3 separate regions of the Homo sapiens genome follow, and all the other regions are linked to region 3. Evidence: fine-mapped expression QTL. A gene starts in region 3. Each other region holds a variant in brackets. All regions are shown on one strand. Distances are between the middles of the regions. Region 1 overlaps SNORC (secondary ossification center associated regulator of chondrocyte maturation). Region 2 has its middle 6.4 kb from the start of SNORC. Region 3 holds the start of GIGYF2 (GRB10 interacting GYF protein 2).

Region 1 (2,756 bases), 170 kb after region 3:
CGCCCGCCGCTGCCCTCACTCCCGGCCAGGATGGCATCCTGTCTGGCCCTGCGCATGGCGCTGCTGCTGGTCTCCGGGGTTCTGGCCCCTGCGGTGCTCACAGGTAAGAGGTGAAGGCCCTTGTCTCAGCCACCACTAGCCTCCCAGGGCCGATAACTACCTTGGGGCCAGATTCTTCAACGTTCACTGGGGAGGAAGCCCTCTCACAGGAGATGGGATGACTATTTGGGGTGATTCTGCGAAGAGCTCTTGTGAGGCCGGCTGGCAGCAGCTGTGTGGGATGGACGTCTCAGGAAATTGTTAGCAGGAGGGATAATGGCCTCTGGAGAAGGAGGACAACTTGGGGGGCAGGCCCAGGGATGTTTTGCTGTTGAGGGGGACATGGGTATTGCTCTAGCACTTTAAAATCTGAAGTCTCCCAGGTCTGGGAGGCAGCTGGGGCACCAGGCACAGGACAAGCAGCTGAGGGGCCAGAGGAGTGCAGAGCCTTGCTGATTACTTTGAAAAGCTTCCCTGCTGGTTTCTGCGACGTCCTTAGAGAATGAGGACCCAGGTACTGTCCCCATCTGGGAAAAGGCTCCAGAGAGGGAGAGAATACAAGGCCCAAGATCCCTCTGCAAAACGGTGTGGACCTCTGGACTGAGATCAGAGTGGCGGAGTCTGGGGTCCCACGAGAGGGAGGCCTCTGGCAGGCTCCCAAGGGCCCTGTGGAGAGGGGAAGACTGGCCCAGGCTGGCTTCAGAGCCTGAGAGACAAAGGGCGCAGACGGGTTACAGGTGGTCTTTGCTCCTTTTGGCCGGGAGTTGGACCAAAGGGCAGCTGGCTTCTGTGTCACAGTAGCGGGGTTCAGGGACCCTGCAGCCTGGGTCTTCTGGAGGGCGCCCGTGGATCTGTGAGAAAGGTGGACCGCAGTCATGAGAGCATGGCCTGGGGAGAGCTTCTGGGGGACGACAGGCCTGGGGAGGCCCCCTCGGCCACACCCTGGGAGGTCTGGGTGACAGCGAGGAGCACCGGAGACTATTGGCTTCTCCCTGGACGCCCAGGAAGAAGCTTGAGGCCAGGGTGTGCTCAGTCTTGACCGGGCGGTTTCTTAACCTCTCTGTGCCTTCTC[G/C]TCATCTGTAGGATGGTGACACAGCCACGCTCTGCCTCACTTGCAGGGGTCTGTGAGGCCTCGTGAGTTCAGACGTGCGGAGCTTTTGGGATGGGCCCCACATCCAGTTAGCGCGAATGTGGATTCTGTGGTCCGAGCCCCTCCCTGGCACAGGGTGGTCTCAACAGAACTCTACTTCCTCCCGCAAGCTGGGAGGGCGCCAGCCTCCCTTGTGGTGGAAGAGGCGCCAGCCTAGGCGAGCCATGCGGTGTTCCCAGGATGGGGGGAAGGGACTTAAAGGGGAAGGTGGCATCTTCCATGGCTTGGATCCTGGGGCTGTGATCTTTGCAGCCCCCTCACTGGGAAGAAGCTGCTTCTCCAGCCTGGTGGTCCGTGTGGGCCGAAGGGGAGGCCCTGGCTCCTGCCTGCTGGGCCTGGGCTGCCTGTGGCTCCTGCCCAGGTTCCTACTCCTGTGTGGCTGACCCTCCTGGCCCAGGCTGCCGGCCAGAGTTCCCAGGCCAGACTGTCCCTAATCATTGTAGGCGGGTGGGCTTCCTCTGCCACCACAGGATGCCTTGGGGACAGCCAGGACCTCACCTGGCCTCACTGCCCCACTTCCCTCCATGTGTCCTACCAAGAGTAGGCAGGCCCCCCGCAGGGGCCAGACCAGGCCTTCCCAACCCCGGAGTCTCTGGGGTTCTGGCTGTTGTTCTTGCGAGAGCGTTTGACCCCACCCCTGGGCTGGGAGCTCTGGACAGGTGTGTACACGGCCCTGGGCTCTGTGGGCTGGGGTCCTGTAGCAGACAGGAAGGGAAGGAGCGGCCTTGTGGGCTGAGGCCCAGGCCCCATCTGAGGCACAGGCCCTCCCTGTTGGGGGCCTGTGGCCTCAGCTACTGAGGTGGGAGCAGGCCGGGCTGAGCGGGCAGGAGGCCAGGGCAGGGATGAAAAGGCCCTTCATGGCCCACACAAAGGCTGTCTGTGAGCAGAGGCGCCTGGCCTCAGGGCCCTGTGGTCAGAACACACTTATTTACCAAAAGGCAGGGCGGCTGGGGCCAGTGGGGCTGGGAGAGAGCCCGTGGTGCCCAGGCTTGTGGCAGTGCCACCAGCCCCTGCTTCCCTGGGTCAGAGCGCGTAGCCACACCACATGGCTAATTCTGGTCAGTGGAGTCTGGGCCTCATTACCGCCATGGAACTTTCTTGGGGTCCTCCGTGCCCCCACCTCTTTGCCAACCTCACTTTCTGTCACCCTGGCCTATTCACTGTCCGCCTGGCACGCCGTGAGTTCCGTCCTCCACACCTTCGCTCCTGCCCCATCTCCCCCCTCCCCAGACAGGACTCCTGCTGGGAAACTGCTCTGCTCCCAGCTTCCCAGAAGGATGGATTTGGGGGAAGATGGGAATTGCCTCTCAGCTTTGCTTTCCCTTCTTACTGGAGTAAATTCTAGAAACATAGATGAGGATAAGAAGTGCCTCGGCCCCTCCCTGGCAGCGGCACCCCTTTTCCTGGTGGATCGGTGGCTGAGTGCAGGCTGTCATTCCGAGCCTATGTGTCTGCCACTTGGGCACCAGCCTAGGTTGGCAGGGAGCTGGTGGCTCCTGGGGCCCTGGCCGCTTGGGTGCAGATGGGTACTGGGCCAGCCTGTGAGGGATTCCTGTGGCAGCCAGCG
Region 2 (2,756 bases), 170 kb after region 3:
CAGGAGGCTGCACGTAAGTACTAGCCTCATTATTATTAACCAGTTTTTTCTGTCATGTCTCTGGTCCTCAGTTTCATTGTCTGTTAGATGAGGTGGTTGGCCCAGATCACCTAAAGAACTTGGAACAAAAATCAATCCCTTAGCTCCATGTCCCAGAGTCTGTAATCTGGGGTGGGACCGTGCATTGGAAATTATTTTCAAATTCCCCAGAGTTCTTAATGGACAGCCTCAGTGGGGACCCACCAGCCTAGCCTAGCTCTGAGATTTCAGCTCCAGCGGCCTAGTGTATGTGTGTGAGTGTGAGGCATGTGTGCTGCAGTAAACTGCTGACATTTGGCTTCTTGATGGTGTGTGACGAGTAACTCTTTGCAGCTTTACTGAAGGAGACCCAAGTTGAAAGGCAAGCTTGGTGTGCCTTGCTTAGGGGGACAGTCATCTGCCTGGATTTTCTGACTTTGGTAACATGAAATGGAGCCTTAAGCAGGTCGGGGTCCTGTTGTGAAACAGAAACCACCCTAGATGAACGTGAAAAAGAAAAAGAATTGGTGTTTGAAGTGTTGGGAGCAACATGGGGGAAAGTTACTGAAAGGTTAGTTAATAACTGTAGGGAAACCACTAACACTGTGTCCCCTCGTCCCATCTATCAGTTGTTAAGTCCATTTTTAGGTGATACTAACTTCAAGTTCAGTCTCACCTAACTATTAGATATCTTAAGGAATACATTGTATTTATGTAAATTAGTAGGGGAAAGTAGAGAAAAGTTGGTTCGTATCTGCAAACGTGTATGTATATATAAGAAGGAATAAAATGCACATCGCTGCCACGGTTCTTGTTTCTGTCCCTGGTTGTGGAGGGTGTTGGCTTAAAGCCTTTACTAAGTTCCACTCCCCCTTTGCCAGCCCCTCATCTGTTGGGTGGCCTGAACCTTCATTTGTGAGCGCTCTGAGTCATTAGCAGTCCTGAGGTCCCTGGGTTGTGGTCATCTTCAATTAGTTTTTTCCCAAGGCCAGTTTTTCTTTTTAATGAAAATGTTCTAGGGAGTGATGGAAAATGTGAAAGCTAAAATAAATAAATAAATAAATAATAAAAATAAAAATAAAAAAGAATCAAACATACATAGAAGTAGACTAATGTAACAGACTCCTACCTAATATAACCTGGCTTCAACAATTATTGACATTTTGCCCATTTTGTTGTATTTATCCCACTTTGTTCTCTTAGAATATTTTAAACCAAATCCTAGATATGACGTCACTCATAAATATTTTAATATATATGATAAAAGAGGACATCTTAGAAAAAGAAAAACCCACAATGCCTTGTCACATTAACAACACATCAGGTCCATAGATGACTTTCTCAGATTGTCTCAAAGGTGTCTTTTTACAAAGTTTGAAAATCAAAACAATGTTCATTGCATTTGGTTGATATGCTTTAAGTCTCCTTTAGTCTTAACAGTTCTCCCTACAAAAAAGAGAAAAAGTTGAAAAACTGTATCATTTATTGATGGAACATTCCACATTCTCTGGATTTAGCAAGAAGTGTCTTAATGGTGTCAATTTCTTCATCCCCCC[C/A]CCACCTCGCCATGTTTTCTGTGAATTAGATCTACAGGCTTGACTAAAACCAGGTTCTCCCTTCCCCACCCCTCACAGGAATCCTTTGCTGGTGGCATGGTGTCCTTCCCGCTGTATCACAGTCACACTGTATTGTCTGGTTGTTCCAGTTTCACTGATGTCACAATTCATCAGTTCTGTTGCTATCAGGTTGATTCATCCATTATAAAAGTCCTCTTGCTCTTACATGTAGCAGTTTTAACATTCCTTGATGACAATTGCCTAGATATATAATTAGTTGAAAATTTGTGATTTTTGGTGGGGAGGGTTACTTTTATTTTGAAATAATTTGACTTTAAGTTGCAAGAACAGTACAAAGGACTTGCACATAACCTTCACCCAAGTTCTTTAGTTAACATTGGACCATACCTGCTTTATTTTCTCTCAATAACTATAATCTCATGATAAGTTTTTTTTTAATGTAAACCATTTGTGACTAAGTTGCATACATCATGTCCCTTTTTCCTGAACCCTGGTGTGTTTCCTCAAAATGAGGACATGCTCCCATATACCACAATACAGTTATCAAAATTAGGAAATTAACAATACAATACTGTTAATAGCCAAGCTTCATTCATATTTCATCAATGGTTCCACTAATTATTTTTTTTTTAAACAAGGTCTCAATCTGTCACCCAAGCTGGAGTGCAGTGGCCTGATCATAGCTTATTGCAGCCTTGAACTCCTGGGCTCCAGCCATCCTCGCCTCAGCCTCTTGAGTAGTTGGGACTATGGGCACATGCCACCATACCCAACTAATTATTACTATTTTTGGTAGGGACAGAGTCTCACCATGTTGCCCAGGTTGGTCTCGAATTCCTGGCCTCAAGCAGTTCTCACACCTTGGCCTCCCAAAGTGTTGGGATTATAGGCATGAGCCACTGCACCCAGGCCACTAATATTTTTAATAAAAGCAAAAAGGCACCGGATGTCATTCATGATCACTTTTTGTGTTTAGTTGTCATGTTTTTGAGTCTCCTTTAATCTGGAACAGGTCCTCAGTCTGTCTTAATCTTTTGCACCTTAACATTTTTTTTAGAGTGGAGGGCAATTGTTTTTTAGAATGTCCTCCATTTGGATTTGTCTGATATTTTCTCATGATTTGCTTGTGATTATGCAATTTTGACAGGAATACTACAGAGT
Region 3 (2,756 bases):
CACCGCAATCTCAGCATCCCGGGTTCAAGCGATTCTCCTGCCTCAGCTACCCAAGTAGCTGGGATTACAGGCATGCGCCACCACGCTCGGCTAATTTTGTATTTTTAGTAGAGACGGGGTTTCTCCATGTTGGTCAGGCTGGTCTCAAACTCCCAACCTCAGGTGATCCGCCGCCTCGGCCTCCCAAAGTGCTGGGATTACAGGCGTGAGCCACTGCCCGGCCGAGAATTGGAGGTTTTTGTTTTTGTTTTAGACGGAGTCTTGCTCTGTCGCCAGGCTGGAGTGCAGTGGCGCGATATCGGCTCACTGCAACGTCTGCCTCCCCAGTTCAAGCGATTCTCCTGCCTCAGCCTCCCGACTAGCTGCGACTGCAGGTGCGTGCCACCACGCCCGGCTACATTTTTTTTTGTATTTTTAGTAGAGACGGGATTTCACCGTGTTAGCCAGGATGGTCTGGTCTCGATCTCCTGACCTCGTGATCCGCCCACCTCCGCCTCCCAAAGTGCTGAGATTACAGGTGTGAGCCACTGCGCCCGGCATGAGAATTGGAGTTTTTAACATTCCATTTTAAGATGGGAGACACAAGTAATCTTTAAAGCTGACAGGAAGGATCCTGTAGGAAGGAAGAAGTTGGAGACACAGGCAAGAATGGGATGCCTAAGGATAGAGTTGCTAGATTTAGCAAACACAGGACGCCCAATTAAATTTGAATTTCAGAAAAACAACGAACAATTTTTCAGTGTGTGCCCCAAATATTGCTGGGTGTCTTGTATTTTATCTGTCAATTCCAAAATAGTTCATCTCTAGGTAAAAGGGTTATAGCCCCAGATGTCCTAGGAAGGAATCAGAGCTCTCAAGTCCTTTCCAGCTGTCCCAGTACAACACTCTGAAATGAATTCCCAGTTCTACCAGAACTGTTAACAAGTAGAGAAACTGCTTTGAATTTCAGCTTTTGCGGCTTTCCCATTCGCTCTAGGATGGCAACTGCGAAGAAAAATGCCGGACTAAAAGCTGTGGAAAAGTTCTAATTTGGAAAACCAGCCCGCAAGTGATGCAGAGGCTTTTGAACTGCAAAAGAGCTCTGGGCGTACAGGACAGTGAGTCACACGGTGCCTGGTCCGGGCCCAACCCTGGACACCAACACCACTCAACTCAAGGGCAGGTACCCGGCTGCTGCCAAGGGGTCAGCGGGAGCCTGCGCACTGCCACGGCCCCGCCCTCTTCCAACCTTTCATCCGGGTCTCGGGCAGGGGCGTGTCTGGGCAGAGGGGCGGGTGGTGGCGGAAAGGAAGGATGTCGTGGGAGACTGGAGAGTGGGGAGGGAAGCGGGAAGGGGCGGGGGCGGAGCAGGGGGCGTGGCGGAGCGGGAGCGCGGTCACGTGACGTGCGTGGCGACGTGTCGGCCATCTTGTGTTGTTGAGGCTGAGGACTGACTGGGGTTCTGAGACTCCCTGTCCCGGACCGCAGGTAACCAGCCGTTCCGTGTCGCTCCCCTGCCCGGCTCTGCTCCGCGCCCCGGCCCCGCCGCCGCGTCCCGGGCCGCCTGTGTCTCCGGTCCGCGTTCGCGCCCCTGCTCCTCCTGCCCGAGCTGGCCCGGCCGCATGGACACCCACAGGCCGCTCCGGCCGGCTTGGGCCGTCAGGCGACGGGACAGGTCAGGTGCAGGGCCGGAGGGAGCCTCCTCCTGGGCGAGGGGCGCTGAGGGCCCTGGCGCGTCACGGCCGCGAGGAGCCGAGAAGCCCCTAGGCCAGGGCCTCTTGGCATTGCGAGGGGAGCCGAACAAGGCAGGAGGGTTGTGGGGTGGGCAGTGTCAGGCCGGCTTGCTCGGAGCTGGAGGGCTCGCCTTCCTCTGCTTGCTTCTCCGCGCCAGACACCCGCCCAGTCTCGGGGTGGCCCGGTAACAGCTGCTGCGGCCAGACAGCTGCTCCTGCCGGCTCTCCTGTCCACACCTGGTCCCTGGGAGGTGCGCTCCTGCCTTCCCCACAGAGCATCTGGACGGAGGAGACTCCTTCCGTGGCGAGAGTACTGGGTCTGGACCAGGCCTGAGGCGAGGTGCAGCCACCATGATCGGAACCTTGGGACCGAGGCTGGGAAACTAGAGCCCATGGCAGCCTTGGGGACCCAAATGTTCACATCAGGTTGAAATGGGCATTATCCTTAAGTGTCAGTTTCCAAAAGCACTCTGAATACTTGTTTTGCGACTGAAACATAAATCAAGCGAACAGGGAATGGGGGCATGAAAGAAGCGGAGCGTATGACCGTGTTTGGGAAGCAATAACGTTGTTTTGCAGTTAATTATTTAGTACTGTGTTTTTTATTTTGTTGTTTTCGTTTTCCTGCAAGTCAAAGCACTTAAACACACGTAGTCTCTCTGTAAGAAAGGTAAGTATTCCAGTTTAACTTGCAAGAAATTGAGTATGGGGCTAGAAGCTGTGAACAGCTTCCTTTCTAGAGCTACATACATTGAATTAAGGCAGTTTTGATTCCCAATGTTGTGCCTGGGGAAGGTATTCTTTCTTTATATAGTATGTCCTTTTTAGAATCAAATGACTTCCTAGATTAGAAAAAAAAATTCTGTCATTCTTTCTGTACATTAATTTTGCTCCTTCTAATATTTGTAGCTTTGGCCTTATTTTGTCCATTTTGCCTAGAACACAAATACTTTCTCTTATTCATTGATGGTTTTACGTGTTTTACTAGTTGGTGTAGCAGTTTCTGATGTGCTCAAACTGGAATATGTACTTGGCTTTTACATC

The links. PIP is the estimated chance that this variant, and not a neighbour inherited with it, causes the effect.
Region 1: its variant is the best candidate, but not a certain one, in a credible set for the expression of GIGYF2 in whole blood (TOPMed, PIP 0.60).
Region 2: its variant is the best candidate, but not a certain one, in a credible set for the expression of GIGYF2 in whole blood (TOPMed, PIP 0.77).

Annotation. Positions count from the first base shown.
Region 1 is chr2:232,870,312-232,873,067 of GRCh38, forward strand. SNORC (secondary ossification center associated regulator of chondrocyte maturation) reads left to right here. Exons shown (of 3, transcript NM_001394206.1): 1 at 1-103. The coding sequence starts at 31. Among named protein-coding and RNA genes, the nearest start is that of SNORC, 1.4 kb to the left of the region's middle. RefSeq lists an enhancer at 1,883-2,648. The variant G/C (reference allele first, on the strand shown) is at 1,112.
Region 2 is chr2:232,862,517-232,865,272 of GRCh38, forward strand. No RefSeq gene overlaps it. Among named protein-coding and RNA genes, the nearest start is that of SNORC, 6.4 kb to the right of the region's middle. The variant C/A (reference allele first, on the strand shown) is at 1,575.
Region 3 is chr2:232,695,926-232,698,681 of GRCh38, forward strand. GIGYF2 (GRB10 interacting GYF protein 2) reads left to right here and starts at 1,406. Exons shown (of 29, transcript NM_001103146.3): 1 at 1,406-1,467. RefSeq lists enhancers at 1,213-1,909, 1,910-2,604 and silencers at 1,259-1,348, 1,379-1,708.